2 linked regions of the Homo sapiens genome follow. The protein of the gene in region 2 purifies or fractionates together with the protein of the main gene of each other region. This does not show direct contact. Each region holds a gene or a part of one and is shown on either strand. Other genes may lie near its edges. The genes, in order: NACC2 and C11orf71.

The links.
Region 1: the proteins of C11orf71 (region 2) and NACC2 purify together in Homo sapiens (affinity purification with mass spectrometry; one large-scale study listed by BioGRID and IntAct). This does not show direct contact.

What each region holds. Positions count from the first base shown.
Region 1 is NC_000009.12:136,050,050-136,053,858, reverse strand, and holds part of NACC2 (nucleus accumbens-associated protein 2), read left to right. Parts: intron 1-3,278; 5' UTR 3,279-3,337; coding exon 3,338-3,809.
Region 2 is NC_000011.10:114,397,723-114,401,710, forward strand, and holds C11orf71 (uncharacterized protein C11orf71), read right to left. Parts: upstream 2,790-3,988; 5' UTR 2,610-2,789; coding exon 2,238-2,609; 3' UTR 810-2,237; downstream 1-809. Other genes in the region: RBM7 (RNA-binding protein 7), read left to right, coding at 2,950-3,045, 3,976-3,988.

The sequences.
Region 1 (3,809 bases), on a different chromosome or scaffold from region 2:
AGGTACTTGGGACCCCCAGGAACCGGTGCGCCGTGCTGGCCTCTGCCTGTCCCCTCTTTTGGTACAAAAGCCCCTGTATGACTCAGACATCCCTACCCCCCCGTCCTTGGGGCGAAGTTGCCCACAACAGAAGCCACGGGCTCTCTGGGAGGCTCCTGGTGGTGGGCGCAGTGGGTCTGTGAAGGGAGCTGTCTAGGGGCCTCTGCCCTCTGTGCTGTGTTGCACAGGCCCCTCTCTTGTACCCCCCTGCCCGGGTTGTGTCCAGCATTCAGCCCTTGCCGAGCTTATGAGGGCACTTGGCAGACTTCCTGGATGAGGCAGAAACTAAGTGGGGACCTGAGGGTGGAGGGTGTGGCGGGGAGGGTGACAGCTGGGCCCTGTGTCTCCTGGCCCGGTGGAGCCCAGCTCATCAGCATGGCCGAGTGGGGACGTTTCTGTAAACGCCCCCATCCCAGTCTCCTTGAGTTGTCACCAGCCCCTTGTAGGAGGCAGAAAACACTAGGCACGAAGCCACCTCCACGGGCCTTTGCCGGCAGCTTCCCCGCACCTGGATCTCTTCCCGTCCCCATTCAGTGGCTTTTTGTCTGGTCTGGAGAAGCTGAGCCCATGGTGTGTGACTAGGGAGGAGCCAGATGGCCCTCTCTCTGGTCTCCGGATGCCTCAGAGGGGCGCCGGGAGTGAGGGGCAGGGCTGTGTCGCCTTGCCTCCCACCAGGCCTGTTCGGGCCTCCTCCGCATCCTGCTGCCAGGGTTACCCCGAGGGTGGTGGAGGCAGCTGGCCAAGCAGGAGGGGGCTCACCTCAAGGCCTCGAGCCTGGACCCTGCCCCTTCTTTTGGGTGGAATGTGCTCTTCCTGGGGGTCACAGCCAGTGGCAGGGAAACTGAGGCTGGGCAGTCCAGAGGTCAGCCTCAGGGCCCCACGCAGAGAGGCTGGTATGAGCCCAGGATGAAGTACACATTCTCTGGAGGGGTCCCGGGGCCACCACAAGTCCTGCACAGCAGCAGCCCCTTCCCAGGAAAAGGCTCAATAACAGCCAGACGCTGCAGACCCCCTTGGGCAGGAGGTGCAGCCTGTGTGGCCGCAGCCAGGAGTGTGCGGGAGGAGCGAGGCGGCCGCTTTGCCCTCTGCTGGGACCTCTCAGGCGGGGCTGCCCCTTCCGGCTCCTGGTTGCCCGGCCACAAAGTCGCTCTTTTCTTAAAGTGCCAGGAGGGCGCTGGGAGTGGGATGGGGAGGGGTGCTGGGGCTGGACTCCCGGGCCTGCCGCCTGGGCAGAGGACACAGCTCTAAGGCCCCCAGGACCTGGGGTGCCGCCTCACCCACCCACTGCCTGCCGTTTCTGTGCCTCTCTTCACCCCCTGCTGTACCTCCCCTCCCCTTCCCTGGCTCCCCTAGCTGTCCTGACCCCCTCACCCCCTCCCCCTGGCGCCTCTGCCCATTCCCCACCCTCGCTGGAGGAGTTCAGCTCTGCCAGCTCTGCAGACTGTTTGGAATAGTTTAAATGCTTTGACACTGGGGCTGTCCTGGAAGGCCGGGAGGCAGTTTACTGGGTAATTCATATGCAAAACTGCACCATAAATTTCCAGGCTGTCTCAGTTGCCGTGGCACCGGGAAGCATTTCTCCACTACTGTACAGTATTTCTGCCATCTTTGTTTGCATTGCAGTGAGTCATCAAAAGTCTGTCTCGTACCAGCACCCGGGGCCGCGCATTCCTCTGGCACCAACACTCCACTGTTTTTAAAGCCGGGGCTGGGAGCTGGCATTTACTTCGGCTCCCAAATCAAAGGCGGCTATTCATTCCCGAGCCGCCGGAACGTTCGTCTGCATCCGGCCCCTTCATTGAGATGCGGTGCGCTGCCCGGGAGGGCCGGCCTGGGTGCAGCTGAGCTGCGGCCGCGAGCCCAGCGCCCAGGCGCTCTGCCCTCCTCCTCCTCCTCCTCCTCCACCATCTCCTCCTCCTCCTCCTCCTCCTCCTCCTCCTCCTTGCCGGCTCCCTGCGCCCTCCCCGCCCCAGGGCTCCCGCTCCGTTTGCTGCATTCGCGGAGCAGCTGGGCAGGCGGGCTGCGTGCGGGGAGCCTGTCCTGCCAGGCGGAGCGGGCAGTGCCGGCCGGCGGCCGCAGCGGCTGAAGGTAGGTCTTCCCGACCGGCCGGCAACTTCTCCGCAGCGGGGGCACTGCGGGCCGCCCCCGGCGCGCGTCCACCTGCCCAGCTCCCGGCGCGGTGGCTCCGCCCTCCTCCCGCCACCCGGCGCCTCTGCGGCCGCCCGCACTTTCCTCCCGTGGGACACAGCGGCCTTTGTGCGGCCCTGCGGAGTTGGGCTGGCGCCTTCTGGGCCGCCCCCGCCCCCTCCGGAGTCCGCACCAGATAAACAGCGGCGCCCTCCCCAGCTCCCAGCCCCGGGGTCCGGGCAGCCCGGCGAGGGCTGGGACCCCTGTAGTCACCTGGGTTGGGGCCGGGCCGTCGGGATTGGCCCGCGTGGGGAGCGAGGCGAGCGGGGTGGGGGGCGTCCGCGAGTGGGGCTGCGACAGGCTTCCCAACTCCTGCCCTGGCGGCGGCTTGGGAACCTGGGTCTGGTCCGAGCCAGGAGAGCACGGGAGAACGGAGCGGGCGCGCCCAGGGTGGTCTCTCTGCGCGAGGGAGGAGTGGACGCGGCTTCAGCGGACTTCCCGGCACCCCCAGCCATTCCCTACCTGCCCGGGAGGCTCAGGGGGACTAGGGGACGCTGGCCCGCCTTCCCCGCAGGGGCCCTCTGCGAGGCTGCTCGGAGGGAAGAGAGGGAAAGCAAACCGCAAACTGCACAGCTCCAGAGACCCCCCTCCCTCCCTCCTTCCCCGCTGCTCCAGCGCGGCCCCTCCCGGGAGCTCCTGTGCGGGCTGGAACTTTTTTGAGGGGAGGAGAGTGGCTGCAGGTTTGCCCAGAGGCTCCCCCGGCGGCCCCCACCTCCTGTCCCGGGGCAGGTTCAGGCCTGCGCTCCTCCTCGCCTGCTGAGACCGAGTCGCTAAGAGCAGCCCCCTGGGAGTGGCGTGGGCGCACTCCTGCCGGGCAGCACCCCGGGGATCTGCAGCAGTGCTGGCCGGGCCCTCTTGCCCGTCTGCCAGGGGGTCTGGGAGACCCCGTGTCCCTTCTCTGGAGTGTCCCAGCCAGGAGGGGCGGGGGAGGGCGCGTGCGGAAGGCTCGCTCTTTGTAAGCCCCCGGCGGGGGAGGAGGGGGTGGGAACGGCCCCTTGAGCGGGGAGCCCGTGACCTGGAGGAACTGACCACGTGCCTCCTGCCCCCCACAGATGAGCCCCGCTAGGGCCGCCCCGCGCTGAGAGCCCAGCCCCGCCGCTGCCCGCCCGCCATGTCTCAGATGCTGCACATCGAGATCCCCAACTTCGGGAACACAGTGCTGGGCTGCCTGAACGAGCAGCGCCTGCTGGGCCTCTACTGCGATGTGTCCATCGTGGTCAAGGGCCAGGCCTTCAAGGCCCACCGGGCGGTGCTGGCCGCCAGCAGCCTCTACTTCCGCGACCTGTTCAGCGGCAACAGCAAGAGCGCCTTCGAGCTGCCCGGCTCCGTGCCGCCCGCCTGCTTCCAGCAGATCCTGTCCTTCTGCTACACGGGCAGGCTCACCATGACGGCCAGCGAGCAGCTCGTGGTCATGTACACGGCCGGCTTCCTGCAGATCCAGCACATCGTGGAGCGCGGCACCGACCTCATGTTCAAGGTGAGCTCGCCCCACTGCGACTCGCAGACCGCTGTGATCGAGGACGCCGGCTCCGAGCCCCAGAGCCCCTGCAACCAGCTGCAGCCGGCCGCCGCCGCCGCGGCCC
Region 2 (3,988 bases):
CCTCATAAGCTAAAAAATATGCTTCCAATGCATATTTAGTGCTGAATCATTTTGTAGGTGATAATTACATGAGCCAACTGGTCTGCCTGTCACCTTGGCATAATTGATGGCACCCTCTTCCACTCCCAAGTGCCCTCATTTGCTGATATGGTCACCCAATATGTCATACCTAATTTTTCTCTCCTCATCCCCCAACTCCCCATTTCAACTTTAACCGAGTTTATTTTTTAAAGCATAGGATTATATACTAAATGGGAAAAAATGAAGAAGTCATCTAGTCATATTTCGCACTATGAGGATTCCTTTGACAAAATCCTTCACAAGATTCAGCCTCTCTGAACTTTCTGGCAGCTAATTCATTACCTTTTGAGGTGGTATTTTCCACTACTAGGCATCTCTAAGTTTTAAGAAAGGCTTCTTTATCTTCAGCTTTAATTTTATTCTTCTTCCCCAGTCTAACACTCTGTTTATAGTTTGGAATTCCTTTCTCAACCACGGGTTTTTGTAATGCCCAGATTAAGCCATCCATTGTATATTACAAACTAACTTCTTTTTAGTTATCTGAAAAAAAATTAGTTATATATTATCCTTGGGAAAATTGAGAAAATAGTTACTCAAGTCATTTTTTTTGCATTCAGATGAGGAACCTCATTTGAAAGGCTGCAGGGCTCTATCATTTACTAGCTATATGACCTTGGAAAGTTTATCTCCTTCACGCTGTTTTTCAGTAACAAAATGAAAGTAGAGTACCCCTCTTATGGGCTGCTGTGAGAATCAAATAACATATAAAGTTCCTTAGGAACACATACTTTTATCATGTTCACCACTTTATTCTAAGTGCTTACCGCAGGCAGTAGCAGGTACAGAGTAAGTTCTCAATAAATATCTCTATAAACAATAGAAGTCCTAGCACACTGACTTGCACATAGCACTCAATAAAAGGTAGCTATTACTATTCTTTCAATCATTCTTCCTATGATCTGGTTTCTAGAATTCTCACTATATTAATCACCCTCTTATGGAAGCTATCTTGTTTACTCAACATTCTTCTTAACACGTAGTTATAACAATTCAATACTATGTGGTGTATGGAGATTTTGCTTTATTTGAAGATAATTATTTTAAGGAAGTCTAAACAGACAAGCGTCTGCTGGGAAAAAGCTAGTCTACCTGCTTATATAAAGAGCTGGCACTTACAAAACCCATTAACTTTCTCAAAATACCACCCTTTAAACATTGGGAAATGTATGGTTAAGAGAACAAAAATAACAGCAAATAAGGAGTGATCAGCCAGGTAAGAGAAGAACCAGGATAGTGCAGTATTATGATGAAAAAAAAAAAAAAAAAGTCACTGCAACCAGTACTTATGTTTATTACTGTACCTAATAAACAGCCCAGCGTGGTGATTCCTATTCACTTAGTAGCCTCCCCATCTAGAATATACTCCGTGATCTTTCTTGATGGCCAGACTGTGTAAAATTCATACAGTGTTTACTACAGGGATCCCCAAATATTGTTAGTTGAATGAACAAACACACATTTCAAGGAGGGCACTACAGTGAGTAGATGAACAGTTTTCTGATAGGAGATTGTACAAGTAATGTTTTCACCAGTGTATTTTAGGACAGCAGATTCAGATTAATGCGCTGGGACTGAATGCAAATAGTAAAATTACAAATATAAAGTAAAAATTTGGAACCTTTGCCAAAGAAAGGAATAATAAATTGATTTAATAATTTGAAAGAACTGTAAGGTTTAGGTTTTGTTCTTATTTTTAGTGCGACTGAGATTGGAGTCTGTTTGTAGACATATCTGAAAAAAGTGAAGGGGGAGATGGAAGATGGTAAATGCCAAGGAAAAGATGGAAGGATAAATCAGTGTAATAAAAAGGAGCACTTCTTTTTCGCCAACAGAAGTAAAGGTAAAGGTTAAGTGTCTGAGTTAACGAATGGATTGTTGACCTCTGGGGAGGGTGCTCCCATCAGCTCAGCTTTGTGACGACCTAAGAATATCCCTTCCACACCTTTCCTGATCCAATCGTTCTGGCTGCATAAAACCACCTAAATCAATCAACTGTTACACTTCCCTTAGTGCTAGGACATATTCATATAACTCCCACGTATTAAATGAAAATACATCCATCTAAAAATAAAACAACACGATTGCTGCTACACCAAGAAAGGATTTTAAAAAGGCCTGTTCACAAGCTAAGTGAGGGCCAGAGGAAAGGTGTTCGTTTAAACTGAAATTCGAGCTGCGATAACACCTCCTAATGCAATCAAACGCTGTTGCAGCACACTTCTTAGGAGATCGGGTTCAACGGCAGGGATTGGGTAAGGTGAGAATCTGGCTTGGCGGCTCCGGCCCCGGCCATCTGGTTCCCTTGGGCTCCGGCCGCCACCATCCACTCGACGGCTCTCGGCCCGAACGCTTGGTCGCACCGCCTGCCGAGGTCCTAGATGAATCGCTTCAGGCCTGGAAACGAGGAAGCCGTCTCCGGAGACCATCGCCAACGCTGACGCCCGCGGTCTGAGGTCGCCATGGGAAGAGCGGTAGGCCACCCTGCTCCTCTGATCACCGGAGGACAGGGACACATTGTTCAGGGCCATATTCAAACACTGCCCGCAGTACTTGCGTTACGTCCCTTTGTGAAGGCAGGCCCTTCGCGGCTCCCCAGATCAGTCCAGCCTGTGTCGGACCCGATGACTAAGCACACAGGAACCCATAACTGAGCCTGCGGAAGAGCCAGAAGCCGCCTTGCCTTTAACGAGGGGTATCCTGGCGAGCATGCGCAGACCGTCCGCGCACGTCGTCGCCCGCTGAGAGCAAGCGCAACGGGCGTTTTCGTTTGTGACGCCAGGGAGCGTGAGGACGTGGGGCTTCCGTGAATGCGCAGTGGGTGCGTCGGCCACGACCTTTTGGCCAGGTTAGGGAGGGGGCGACGCTGAGATGGGGGCGGCGGCGGCGGAAGCGGATCGCACTCTCTTTGTGGGCAACCTTGAAACGAAAGTGACCGAGGAGCTCCTTTTCGAGCTTTTCCACCAGGTAAGCGGCTGGGTTCGGCCCTTTGCCTTTCGTTTTCCGTCTCGCCTAGGGCCTGGCCAGCGGCCACCCCGTTTTCTTTTCGTAGCCGTCAGGGGACCCGACGGGTGGCTGTTTGGGGGTGAAAGGCGGGTCTGGGTTGCGAAACGCTCGCTGGGTGTCGCTTTCCTGGAAGATCTTGGTTCGTTTAGGCCGAAAGTGACGACTAAAGGTGGTGGAGGGATCCTCGATCAGGTTTCCCGTGGTAGAGATCCAGGGGTCCTTGGGAACACAGTGTGTGTGTAGGGTCTTCGTTGAGCAGTGCTTTTTCTTATCCTTCCTGTTGTCATCTTCCCCTTAGGATAATTTGTCTTTGGTTTATCTGACTGGGAACTTAATATTTTAATTTATTTGTGTCTGTTTTCCCCTAAAGTTTGCTTATCAAATTGCAGCATTATTAAAATATGTAAAATAAAATGGTTAAGTACTCCGTAGAAAAACAGCATTTTAGTGTTGCTGTATTAAAAAGTGTGAAAAATTCTGAGTATCCTATTCCCCCCATCCCTATCCCCTAATAACTGGTATTGTTTGATTAATCAATACAAAAGTCCGTTTTTAGTTAAAGAAAATCATTCTCTTGTTCTTGATAAATGTTCATTTTCATGGAGTGGCAAAATAATGGCGATTGGTCACTATGTTAAGCCATACAGTGCTGTGAATTGCAAAAGTGATTGTGTTTCCAGTTCCTTATGGGCCCCCTTCCCCAAATAAATCTAATGTTCAGTCATAACTAGGATGTTTACTGTAGCCAAAATGGAAATCCGTGCATCATTTTCAAAAGAAGTTTCTGATTACGTTTCTGTTGTTTTTAAACTTTGTCATATCTTATTTGTAAAATTTGAGTATTTTCCCTTAGTTGCTTTATTTAAATTCTAAACACCTTTTTGTTTGTAGGCTGGGCCAGTAA